Linked DNA regions of Homo sapiens: region 1 is linked to region 2. Evidence: fine-mapped expression QTL. A gene starts in region 2. The other region holds a variant in brackets. All regions are shown on one strand. Distances are from middle to middle.

Region 1 (5,371 bases), 61 kb after region 2:
CGTGTCACTTCTATTTACAGTATACGGAGCACCACCATGTCTCTTATCTCAGGCCATCAGCCCTTCTTAGTGATCTTATTATTTCCACTGATTCAGGTTAAGCTTGGCCTACTGTGGGCTTTATTTAGATCATCTTTATTATACCTGTGGGTAGATTTTGCAAGCAGGCCCTAGCACAGGTTCACTTGTGGGTTTCCTTTTAAAAGGTCAGTGTGAAACAGGAAATGTGACTAAGAAAATCTTCTTCCTCCATGAAGCCTCACTTCATTAACTGGAAGAAAAGCTCCTATCCTGTCTCCCCCCAAACTTGCTCATGGCCCAGACACATTTCAAAACAGCACATATTTCCCAAAACACTGACACGTGCATTCTAAGGCTCGTGTGTGCGGTGAGTGGTTCTTTGTCAAGTTCGTTCTGTGAAGGGGCCCTGTCGTCACACCGATCACTGTTCTTCAGATATCTGAGGATGTGCAGGGGCCTGAGGGACCTGGAAACCTGGTGGCTGAGCAATGAGGAGAGTGGAACCCATGGTTGGAACAGTTGGCCATCCTCATGCGGATAGGGGCAGAGCCAGAATGGGAATCAAGGTCTCCTGACTCCCCGGCCACATTAACCCAAGTAAACCCCATGTCTACCTCCTTAGCTTCCGGAGTCCCCTGCATCTTCCTCCTTGTGGGACACAAGCCAGGTACAGTTGCAGGGTGGACATGTGGTTTCCAAACAGGATGCTGGGCAAATTAATCTGGGATTCCTGATTGGGGTTCTTTAGGAGGCAGTAGTGGCTACCCTTTAGATCATCTGGTTTGTGACCTTGTTTCAGTTTTCTCATCTATAAAATAGAAAAATAATAGTACTTATGATGAGGTAAAAATAAATGAATACACATAAAACACTTAGAACAGTCTTGCTGTGTGATCACTCCATAGCATTAGTGATTATTATTCTGGTGGGTTGGTTAGCTTTCCTCCATTCTATTCAGTTCAATGGGGGTTTGGCATCAACCACAGGCTTTGCCGGGGCTGTGAAAATGGCCACATTGAGGCTCCACCTTAACCCTGGCCAGCCTCCCAACAGCCAGCCATTTGTCTTAAGAAGAGCTGAAAGAAATAATCTAATGGCGCAATGCAAAGTCAACACTGATGGGGCTGAGGGGTGTCTTTTCGGACAAGACGTGCAGTGGGGAGCCCACCTGTGAGTTGGCCTGTTTCACGGCTGCGTGCGGTGCCCACTCCTCACAGACTCTGAGTGAGTGGCAAGGTGGGCCCGGAGTCAATTCTGGCTTGGCAATGGATACTGTTACTGAGGGCATGGGTTGAGGCACAGGAGCTTGGGGCTCCAGATGCTTGGAGTAAATGTGAAAAGGGAGTGTGGGATGATGTGAGTGGGAGCTGTGGATGGGTTCAAGCGTGCTGAGTCCTGGCTTGACTCACCCTTCCAGCTTCTGCTGTAACTGTCAGTGCCTTTGTCTGCATGCTGGGAAATCCCTGAGTGCTGGGTTAAACCCCAACCCTAAAAGGCACGTAGACACTTCTCCTGAGCTTTGAGTTGCTTCATTCTGCCCAGCAGCTTCCTGAAAATGTAGTCTTGCCACACCAGAGGAAGGATAGACCCATAGCTGTGGGGGACCCTGTGTCAGCAGGATTTACTACCGGGTGAGCTGGGGCTGCAACAGCACGTGTGAGCAACTTAACAGGGCTGATGGTTTTTCAACAAATTTTTAAAAATTAAAAAAAATTTTAAATTTTTGTCGGGACATAGTAGGTGTGTGTATTTATGGGGCATGAGAGATATTTTGATACACGCATACAATGTGTAGTAATTGCATCAGGGTAAATGGGGTATCCATCACTTAAAGCTTTTATCCTTTGTGTTACAGACAATCCAATTATACTCTTTTCGTTATTTTTAAATGTACAATTCAATCATTATTGACTATAGTCACCTTGTTGTGCTATCAAATATCAGATCTTATTCATTCTTTTCGCTCTTGTCTCCCAGGCTGGAGTGCAGTGGTTTGATCTTGGCTCACTGCAACCTCCGCCTCCCGGGTTCAGGAGATTCTCCTGCCTCAGCCTCCCAAGTAGCTGGAATTACAGGCGTGCACCATCATGCCTGGCTAATTTTTTTGTATATTTAGTAGAGATGGGGTTTCACCATGTTGGCCAGGCTGGTCTCAAACTCCTGACCTCAGGTGATCCGCCTGCCTCGGCCCCCCAAAATGCTGGGATTACAGGCGTGAGCCACTGTGCCTGGCCAAGATCTTATTCATTCTTTCTAACAATTTTTTTTGTAGTCATTAACAAGGCTGAAGTTTTAATGCAACTTACTTTTATTGCACATGCCATGCATTATGCACCAATCTGTGTTCTTCCAATGCTAC[C/T]GGGAACCTCTTACCTTTGTATCAGTTCATCGTTGTCCTCTTCTCCAACTGCCTGTGTACCTGGGTCAGGGGTCCTCTTTTATCGAGTGGAACAAATGTGCCCAGGTACAGAGAAATGCTTTGTGCTATTGTCCACCAGGCAGGGGCATTTTCTTTTCTCAAATATTCTTGGTAAATAGACGAGCAGTCTTTACTTGAACGCACTGGGTGTCATATGCCACAGCCCTAACTTGAATGTGCTGGCTTGCTGCAAGTGGGTGATTCCTTAGAAATTTGCTCTGTTCCTAGACGGGATCAAAATGGTCCTTAGATTCTTAATGGGTCCCTATCTGGAATCCATTTGATCTTAAAATAAAATGGCCGTGGAAGAAATTTTTCATTAATTCCTAGCTGATTTGCAATGAAATTAAATTTCTGAGTATAAGGAATATTTTTTACGGAGTAAACTTATAAGTGGGGTTGCTGGGTGTTTCCCATTGATTAGCCTAGTGTTTAAAAGTATAATGTCTTTATTTTCTGGTTTCTTACTTTTTTGAGTTCCCTCACTTTTCTTCTAGAGTTCATTATGCAGGTCTGGAAAACAACAACCACCACCACCAGCAGGAGAAAAGCAGGGGTTAGTTTGGGGGGGGTTGAAATGGGAAAAATAGACATTTCCAGCTCCCAACATCTTATTTCCTGAATATCTTCGGAGCCCAAGAAAGTGGCTCTGAGCTGCCTTTGCAGTCTTGAAGCTGCACTTGCGTTCCCACCAGCCCCCGGGCCTCTGGTTGCATCCTGGGGGGCACTTCTGCACTCCCAGCCTCCTGGGTATGGATTGGGGTGAAGATGTTGTGCAGTGAGGGGTGGGAGCCCCACACCCTAATAGAGCCAAGCTGGCCACACTGCCTGTCTTTCCCAATTAGTTCCCCAAAGGGAACAAAGCCTTATTTCTTCCCTCCCTTAGTTCCCAGGCACTGGTTGGGGAAAAACAATCCTTGGCAGCTCAGGGGTTAAAAATAAAACACAGCGAGGGGGAAAACAAGCCGGGCAGCTGCAGCGGCTCCTCAGAGCCCACTCCAGGCTAAATAGAGGCCCCAGCAACTCCTTGGAGACTTGAACCCTGGGCGATGGAATTTTCCCTTGCATGAAGGCTATTGTCCTCTGGAAAGGGCCAGGGCCAGAGGAGGGCCTGGGGAGCACTGATCTCCCCAGCCCACAGCCAGGGAGCTCCTGAGAGCCCAAGGGCTCGGTCCCACCCAGCTGGGTTTGGGTGAAAAGGCAACGGGGGGTGCAGCCCACCCCTCCCCCTTTGGGAAAAAGGGAGGGCTTGGGCTTCCAAAGGCCTGGGTACCAGTTGTTGCCCCACTCCTCAGCCCAACCAGCTAGTCACGGATGGAATAAAAGGCTTGGTTCCCTTGGCAACTGAGGGGACTACAGTTTTTCACAGAGTACAAGATGGGCTTGGGGAGGAAGGGAGGTGAAAGTGAGGGATGGGGGGTGGTTTGCAGGAGGAGGGAAGAAGCGGGGAGGGGCAGCCTGTTTACCAGTGCTGCTTGAGTTTGAGTCTCAAGGGAACCTTTTGTAGGTTCTGGCCTGGGAAATGCAGGATACCCTGAGTGTGGGGGATGCTCTTAACTGCTTCTCAGTTTTGAGTCACCATTGGAAGTCTCTGGTCCATGGTAGAAATGTGATTGTTGTAGGCCTCATGCTAACCTCATGGACAGCTCAGGGGAGTTAAGCAGAGCCTACCTTTATAGGTGACTAGGCCTGGCCCTGTTTTATAACTGGAGACCCCTGGAAGTGTTGATAGATGCTTGAGCCCATAGAGAGCTATTTGTGAAGCAGAGATTAGAATAGCAGGCGCCTGTCTCCTGGGTCTGATCTCGATGGACTAGACAAGGCTATTTTTAATATCAAGCAGGAGAGCTGCTGAAATATAGACAAAGTGCAGAACCTGGGCTGATTTTGTCTCAAGCACAAGACTTTGTGAGAGGAGCTTAAAAATCTATCCATGTACTGAACAGATACATTTAGCCTCAGTGAAAACAAATGATAAGGGACGGGAGACTTTGTCCCAAAACTTTGGGATGAGAGGTCCCCACATGTTGTCACTAGCACGGAGGTGTACAGGAGACTTGGTATAACCCTCTCCGAGGCTTTAGATGGTCAGGGCTGCCCACCTGGCATTGATAGAAACACCTTTTATTGCTGCCATTAAAAGTGTGGCATCTGCCAAATGAAAAGAAAGGAAGCAGAGTGAATATGTTGATATGGTGGCTTAAGAAGATAGAATAGTGTAAACCGACACACTGTTCAAGAGTCTTGAAATGATTTTTTTAAAAAATGGAAAACAGAACCCCAAACCCCTATCTGGTATAGCAGAGAGTTCTTGGAAAGGATGAGAATGGGGTTCATGGCTGCTTTGGTGGAAAGGCTTGCTTGGTTCTTCTGCCTTTGCCGGGGGACCTGGGAGTGGGAAGGGGATGTTGGGGGAGAGGTCACTGTGTTTTCCTGAGAGGGTGGCGAGGGTCATCACCGTGAAGTACTTCCTCATGCACACTGCGGTCAGTTCCTTCAAAGCCTGGCTCCGATGGGTGGGTCTCATCTGAAAGACACAATTTGAGGAAACCTAGAGGGCGGCTCCTAAGATGAGGAAACACCTGGATGGCAGGTCTCTGATAAGGAAACAATCCTGAGATACCACTGCAGCTGCTTTGCATGCATGACCTATGCCCAATCAGATGACCATCTGCTTTAATCATCATAACCAAATAGTAATAATAAAAAGATCAAGGAATCACTTATCACCTAATTAATTTACTTACTGACTGGTGGGTTGGCAGAGAAACAAGTCTGGGCAATGCAGAATAACAAGCTACTTAGAAAATATGCAGAGAGGCTGGGTGCAGTGGCTCACGCCTGTAATCCCAGCACTTTGGGAGGCTAAGGCAGGCGGATCACAAGGTCAGGAGTTCGAGATCAGCGTGACCAACATAGTGAAACGCTGTC
Region 2 (5,371 bases):
GGAACAAACCCTTGGTCGGCGGGGCCGGTAAACAACTCGGGAGCGAGCGGGCTAGGCCAGTCGCAGCCTTGCGGAGCCCGCGCCCCCGGGGAGAGGGGGAGGGGAGGGCCTCCGGGAGTTGGAAAAGCCGAGGAAATTCGAGGAATCAGCTTTCTTTGGAAAAATCCACTTTGTAGCCATTCTGGGGCGCCTGATGGTGCTCCTGGCCGGTCCCGCAGCCTTGGAGGGAAAGCGGCGCCGCCCGAAGCAGGGGCATAGCCGGTGCCCCGCGGGGACAGGCCCTGGGCCGGGAAGGGGGCCCCGCCCGCTCCCAGTCCCCTTCCCCTTTGCTTTTTTCCAGCCCCTCCTCCGGTCCCCCCAGCTGAGCTTCGCGAACCCTCGGGAGTTAAAGACCAGCCGGCCTCTTTTTTGGGGGGGGTGGGGGGTGGGGGAGCGGGAATGGGTGGAGGCCGGGGGAATAAAAAACCGAAATAGCTTCACATCAGAACTCAGACTAACCTTGTGGTTTCAACGCGCACTCTGCTCTGTCCTGAAATCTGGAACTCATTACCTCATCACCAAGAAACTGCACGAAATCTCTCCCCCACCGCCCCAACACCCACTTGGGAAAGGAACGAGCAAACATCCCTCTAAGAAAGAAACCTACACTTGAATGATTTAAATTAAGGTGGATGGAAGTTATTTCCCTTTCTGGCGCTTGCCAGATTTCAAGAAAAGCTGAAAAATGGGAGCGGGGGAGGGAAGCAACAGACGGCTGGAGGGCAGCAGCAGAACAAGCGAGGGGCAGCAGCCGAGTTAAAGTGGGGGCCATCCATTTCGGGCAGAGGAGACAAATGAAAGCCGACCCCGCTGGGATCACGTAGGTTCGTGGCTGCAGCAAAAGTTGGGTTTCACAAAGTTGAAAAACAGCCGGTTTCTCAAACAATTGTGATTTGGAAGGTTTCGCTGGGTTTGCCCAGATGTTTACGAATAAATAAGAAATGCAGTTTTAAAAAAAAGTGTGTGTTGGGGGTGGTGAGAATGCGCTCTCTTCGGCCCGCCCCGTCCTTTCCAAAGAAACGTGCTCATAATGGGGTGACCTAATTACATCGCAATGGAACTCAATCTTAGCCACTCCGCAGCACCGGGTTTCATAACAGACTCGGCGGCCTCGAGTGCTGGGAAGAAACGTGCGAGGGCCGAGGGGGGCGGCGGAGCCCGCGTGGAAATCGGAAAGAAGCGCAGCCCTGCGACTTCCGCCTGGGTCATCACGCCAGCAGTCGGGCCAAGGCGCAGGGGGCGGGTGGGGGACTCGTTAACTTTTTATTTGGGTGGGCGGCATCCAAACCTAACAGTATATATTTTATCATTTTCAAGGGAGTCATGCTCCATTGCGGGCCCTTCGGTTTCGTGGCTCCCATGTCCCCCTCTCCACCTCCCGCCAAAACGGCGCAGCGTGACAAGCCATATGTTCCACTCCGGTGGGGGCGAGAGAGAAGCAACAATAAGTTAAAAGTGCCGCCTCCCTCCACCTCTTTACCTTCATTCTTACCAAAGTAACCTTTTTTCATTGTTCTAGAGTCTTGAGGTGTGTGTGGGGAGGATGGAGGAGGAGGGAGGGTTGTGGCGCCGCCCAGAATTCGGAGCGCGCGTGGAAAGTAGTGAGTTGCTCGGTGGGCTTTTTCTGGGAGGAAGGGGCATTCAGGAAGGATTAGGGTTTTCTTGACTAAAAAGTTTAAAGATTGGATGCGTGAAAAGAAACGGCACGCCTAGGCCTGGTAAAACAAACAATCGTCCCGGGTTGTGGTCTTTTTTTGCGGCGCCCCCCACCCGCCCACACCCGGAGAGCGCCGGCTGCAAAGCGAGCGCGAGTGTCGACGCGTGCGGCGCACTAAATTGTGCCGCGCTCGCCCCCGCCAGACCATGTCCTCCTGGGGAAAAAGTTTCCCTAGTCCCCCCAGCAGCGCGCCCCACCCTACGCCCCGCTGGAAAAAAAACAGCAACATAAAATCCTAGGCTTGAACATTCTGTGCGTCCCAAATTTCTAATGTCCTCGGCCTGCCCGGTTTGCCGAAGGGAGCCGAGTGTCGAAGAGAAGTCGGGAAAAGGTAAGTTGTGCAGACACTTGGGGAAGTTTCAAGGAGACCGCCAGCTCAAGATGGAAACCGCGGCCCGGGCGCTAAGGACGGGCTTCAGCTCCCGCTGGCAAAAAGAGAAAGTCGAGCCCGCCTTCCTGCCCAACAAAAAACAACAACATGACAACAAGAACCCCGGAGGGAGTGGAATGAGTGACGTCACAGCCGCGCTCTGAGGCTGACAAAGGAGGGGGCGCGCCCCTCCCGCTCTGCGCCCGCGCGGCCCCGGAGAGGGGGCGCCTGAAGCGCCGGGTAGGGAAGTCAGCCGACTTGAAACTTTTCCTCTTAAAGAAAAAAAAAAAAAAGTTGTGCGCGGCTCACAGTGGGGTTTTTTTTTTCCGCCTTCTTTTCTCGTCTCCCCTCCCCCTTCTTCCTTTTGAAAGTTTCTTCTCCTCCCCCTGCCCCCCCTCCCCGCCTGACCGCATGGCTGATTCAACTCCAGTGTCAATCAACTTCTTTTTCCTCCTCTTCCTCATTTAAATAAGTTTAAAGCTCCTCCTCCCCCCGGCCCACCAAATCTGAACTTTATAAATTGGGCTTTGCGCGCCCCAGCCCGGAGTCAGAAAGGCGAGGGGCGCCGGGAACTGGCGTGTGGGACTCCAGACAGGAGAGGCTGCGCCTTCCCCGCACCGGGACCTTCGCGACACACCAGATCCTCGCCCCTGGCTCGCGCGAACGCACAGGATGACCACCACCCTCGTGTCTGCCACCATCTTCGACTTGAGCGAAGTTTTATGCAAGGTAAAGGGGGGCGGAGCATTTGCTTTTCAAAAAGTCTTTTTCTTTTGCCTTAAGAAAGAACCCCCAAAAGTTTGGGTCTTGGAAGGCAATGGGGAAAGTGGTGCAGCGAGATGATTCTTTTCTCCTCCGGCATTTCTCCCAAGTTTGAAGGAATTTGGCCCCGTCCTTCCCACCCTTTGAGTTTCAACAGTTGCTGGCGGGGATTACATGTGAATCTGGAGGCCAGGGTTTTGAGGGGCGAAGTTTGCCTGGCAGGGCAGCCCGGGGGCTTCGGGGGGAGGGCTGGGATTGGGACAAGTTTTGGGCGATCCTGTTTTACGTAACGTGCTGCTGGATCCCAGGTTTGCTGGTCTGATCGGGTTCCCAGTCTGCGCCCTAGGTCTGTCCAGCGGCATTACCCACCCGTGGGGTTGGGAGTGGGAGGTCCCTCGGGGAAGTGAGTCTCGGGACAATGTTTTCCTCCACTCTTTGGGGGGAGCTGGGGATATGCGAGGAAGAAAGGCCAAGTTGTGATTCAAAAAGATGTTGCAGAACAAGTTTGCAGTGGGGCTTGAGTCCGCCCTAGCTCCGTTGGGCTTCTTCCCGCGATAGCCGATCGTGCAGCAAACTTTGGGGTGAAAGAGGCATTCAGGTTGACCCGCTTACCTGTGTTGCCGAGGCATTGCGGCTCATCGATTGCGGGCGGGGTTGGGGGGGGAGGTGGCGACAAAATGCTGGCTTGAACTCGAGAGTCCCGCGAGTAAGGATTTAATGGGGGGCTCCTTAAAACATGTTGCTTGTCAGCCAGTGTTGAAAAAGCAAGTTTTAAACTCGGAATGTTCCAGGACTGCGGTTTAAATGTACATAGCAAAAGTCTATGGATGTTGTTAAATTTCTTTCCAACCTCCCCCTCCCAATTTGAAAGGGTGAAGCTGCTGGGCTACTTTTTAATTGCTGAAGTGTTTTGCCTTCTCTTAACACGTCGGGTCATGTTGCTCTGTTTTCCCAGCTTGCTGCTCCTGTTGGTGCAGCTGCCAACGCCCCAGGGCTGCAGGGTTGGGGTGCAGGGACGCCGAGGAGCTGAAGAGTAGCATTTAAAAAGTTTGAATTTTTCAGCTTCCTTCCCTCCCTGCACATTCCCAAACTCCACTTGCCAGCCCGGCTGCCAGCGCTCCCCAACATTTCTTCCTTCTTTTCTCGACTCTCCCGCTCTTTGATCTATTTCTTTCTTTGGCCCCCCTCCCCCCTCACGACTTTTTAAATGAACCTCATTGTTGGGAACCAGCTCTCGACTGGGTTCCTGTAATCCTCTCGGTGGGGTGGTTGCAGTTACAGATTCCCGGTCCCCCCCTGCTGATCCTAAGGGACCAACATTAGAATTTGCACAATGACACCCACATGGGCTGGGAACTAACTCCTAGGTCCCTGACCTGCACCATTTCCAAATCTTGGGTACAATTTGGGCAGGTGACCAGGGTCCTATTGGAACAGAAACCTGCCATTGGTGGCTCTGCCCCCATCCCCACCACCCCCAATCCGCTATTGACTAGGAGGTGGGTAGGGGGGTTGGTGCTTTCCTTTTCCTTTCCATCTGCAGCTTTGCGTTAAAGATTAAACACTGGAGCTCTTATCCAAGCTTGCTCTTGCAGCCAAAAGACTAATTGCAAAGGCATCTTCTCAGTGAAGGGGGCGGGGTGGGCTAGGGCTGAGTGGAAATGGTGAGAGAGATTATTGTAGAAAATATCTCTTCCGGGAACTTAGGGCAAAGAGTTTTATTTTCAGGAATCACATCCCTGTCTCCCCCAACCTCAGACCAGGCCCCCAATCTCCTCCCCACAAGAAAAAGCAAAGGCAGTCTGAAAACCTGTTGCCAAAGGAAGGGAACACTTCTGAAGGAGGAAGTTGAGAGTCTTAGGCCAGGTCTTGAAGGAGGGGGTATCAATTAAGCAGAGACTGATTGGAAGGGGACCTAACGTAGCCTATGATAGACTCCTTTCTGAGGTTTACCTGTTTTTGTCGCGGGCGGTGGCGGGGGCGGGGTGCGGTAATCTAGAGAGGTCTGGGTTGTGTGAGATATTTTGAGTTGAAGAATCTATTTGACTAGTAAAAAAGTTGAACTTTAAAGTGGTAGCTTTGGGGACAGAGGACATGGGGGTTGCATTGCAGGAGTCAGCATGGAGCAGGGTGCTTGTCACACAGTTTGGATCTTGTGGTTTCTTACGCATGGGGCCAAAATAAACCCAGGTGAATGGCCTATGGGAGGGAGAGAGGGAAGGGAGCTTGCTAGAGCCGAGGTAGAGATGAGTTCTTTGAGAAAGAGCGGGCGTTTGTGATTGTGTAGGGGGCTGCCCATAGTGGACATCCTGGTGGATGTCCTCTGTCCTTACCATCCTTTCTCTTCTCTCTCCAGGGTAACAAGATGCTCAACTATAGTGCTCCCAGTGCAGGGGGTTGCCTGCTGGACAGAAAGGCAGTGGGCACCCCTGCTGGTGGGGGCTTCCCTCGGAGGCACTCAGTCACCCTGCCCAGCTCCAAGT

The links. PIP is the estimated chance that this variant, and not a neighbour inherited with it, causes the effect.
Region 1: its variant is the best candidate, but not a certain one, in a credible set for the expression of ZFP36L1 in whole blood (INTERVAL, PIP 0.71).

Annotation. Positions count from the first base shown.
Region 1 is chr14:68,729,404-68,734,774 of GRCh38, reverse strand. LOC105370547 (a long non-coding RNA gene) reads right to left here. Exons shown (of 4, transcript XR_007064227.1): 2 at 2,395-4,967; 3 at 636-829. Among named protein-coding and RNA genes, the nearest start is that of RAD51B-AS1, 47 kb to the right of the region's middle. RefSeq lists an enhancer at 3,486-4,039. The variant C/T (reference allele first, on the strand shown) is at 2,381.
Region 2 is chr14:68,790,366-68,795,736 of GRCh38, reverse strand. ZFP36L1 (ZFP36 ring finger protein like 1) reads left to right here and starts at 2,670. Exons shown (of 2, transcript NM_004926.4): 1 at 2,670-2,855; 2 at 5,245-5,371. The coding sequence starts at 2,799. RefSeq lists enhancers at 683-842, 505-1,049, 5,137-5,371 and silencers at 2,223-2,422, 2,443-2,512.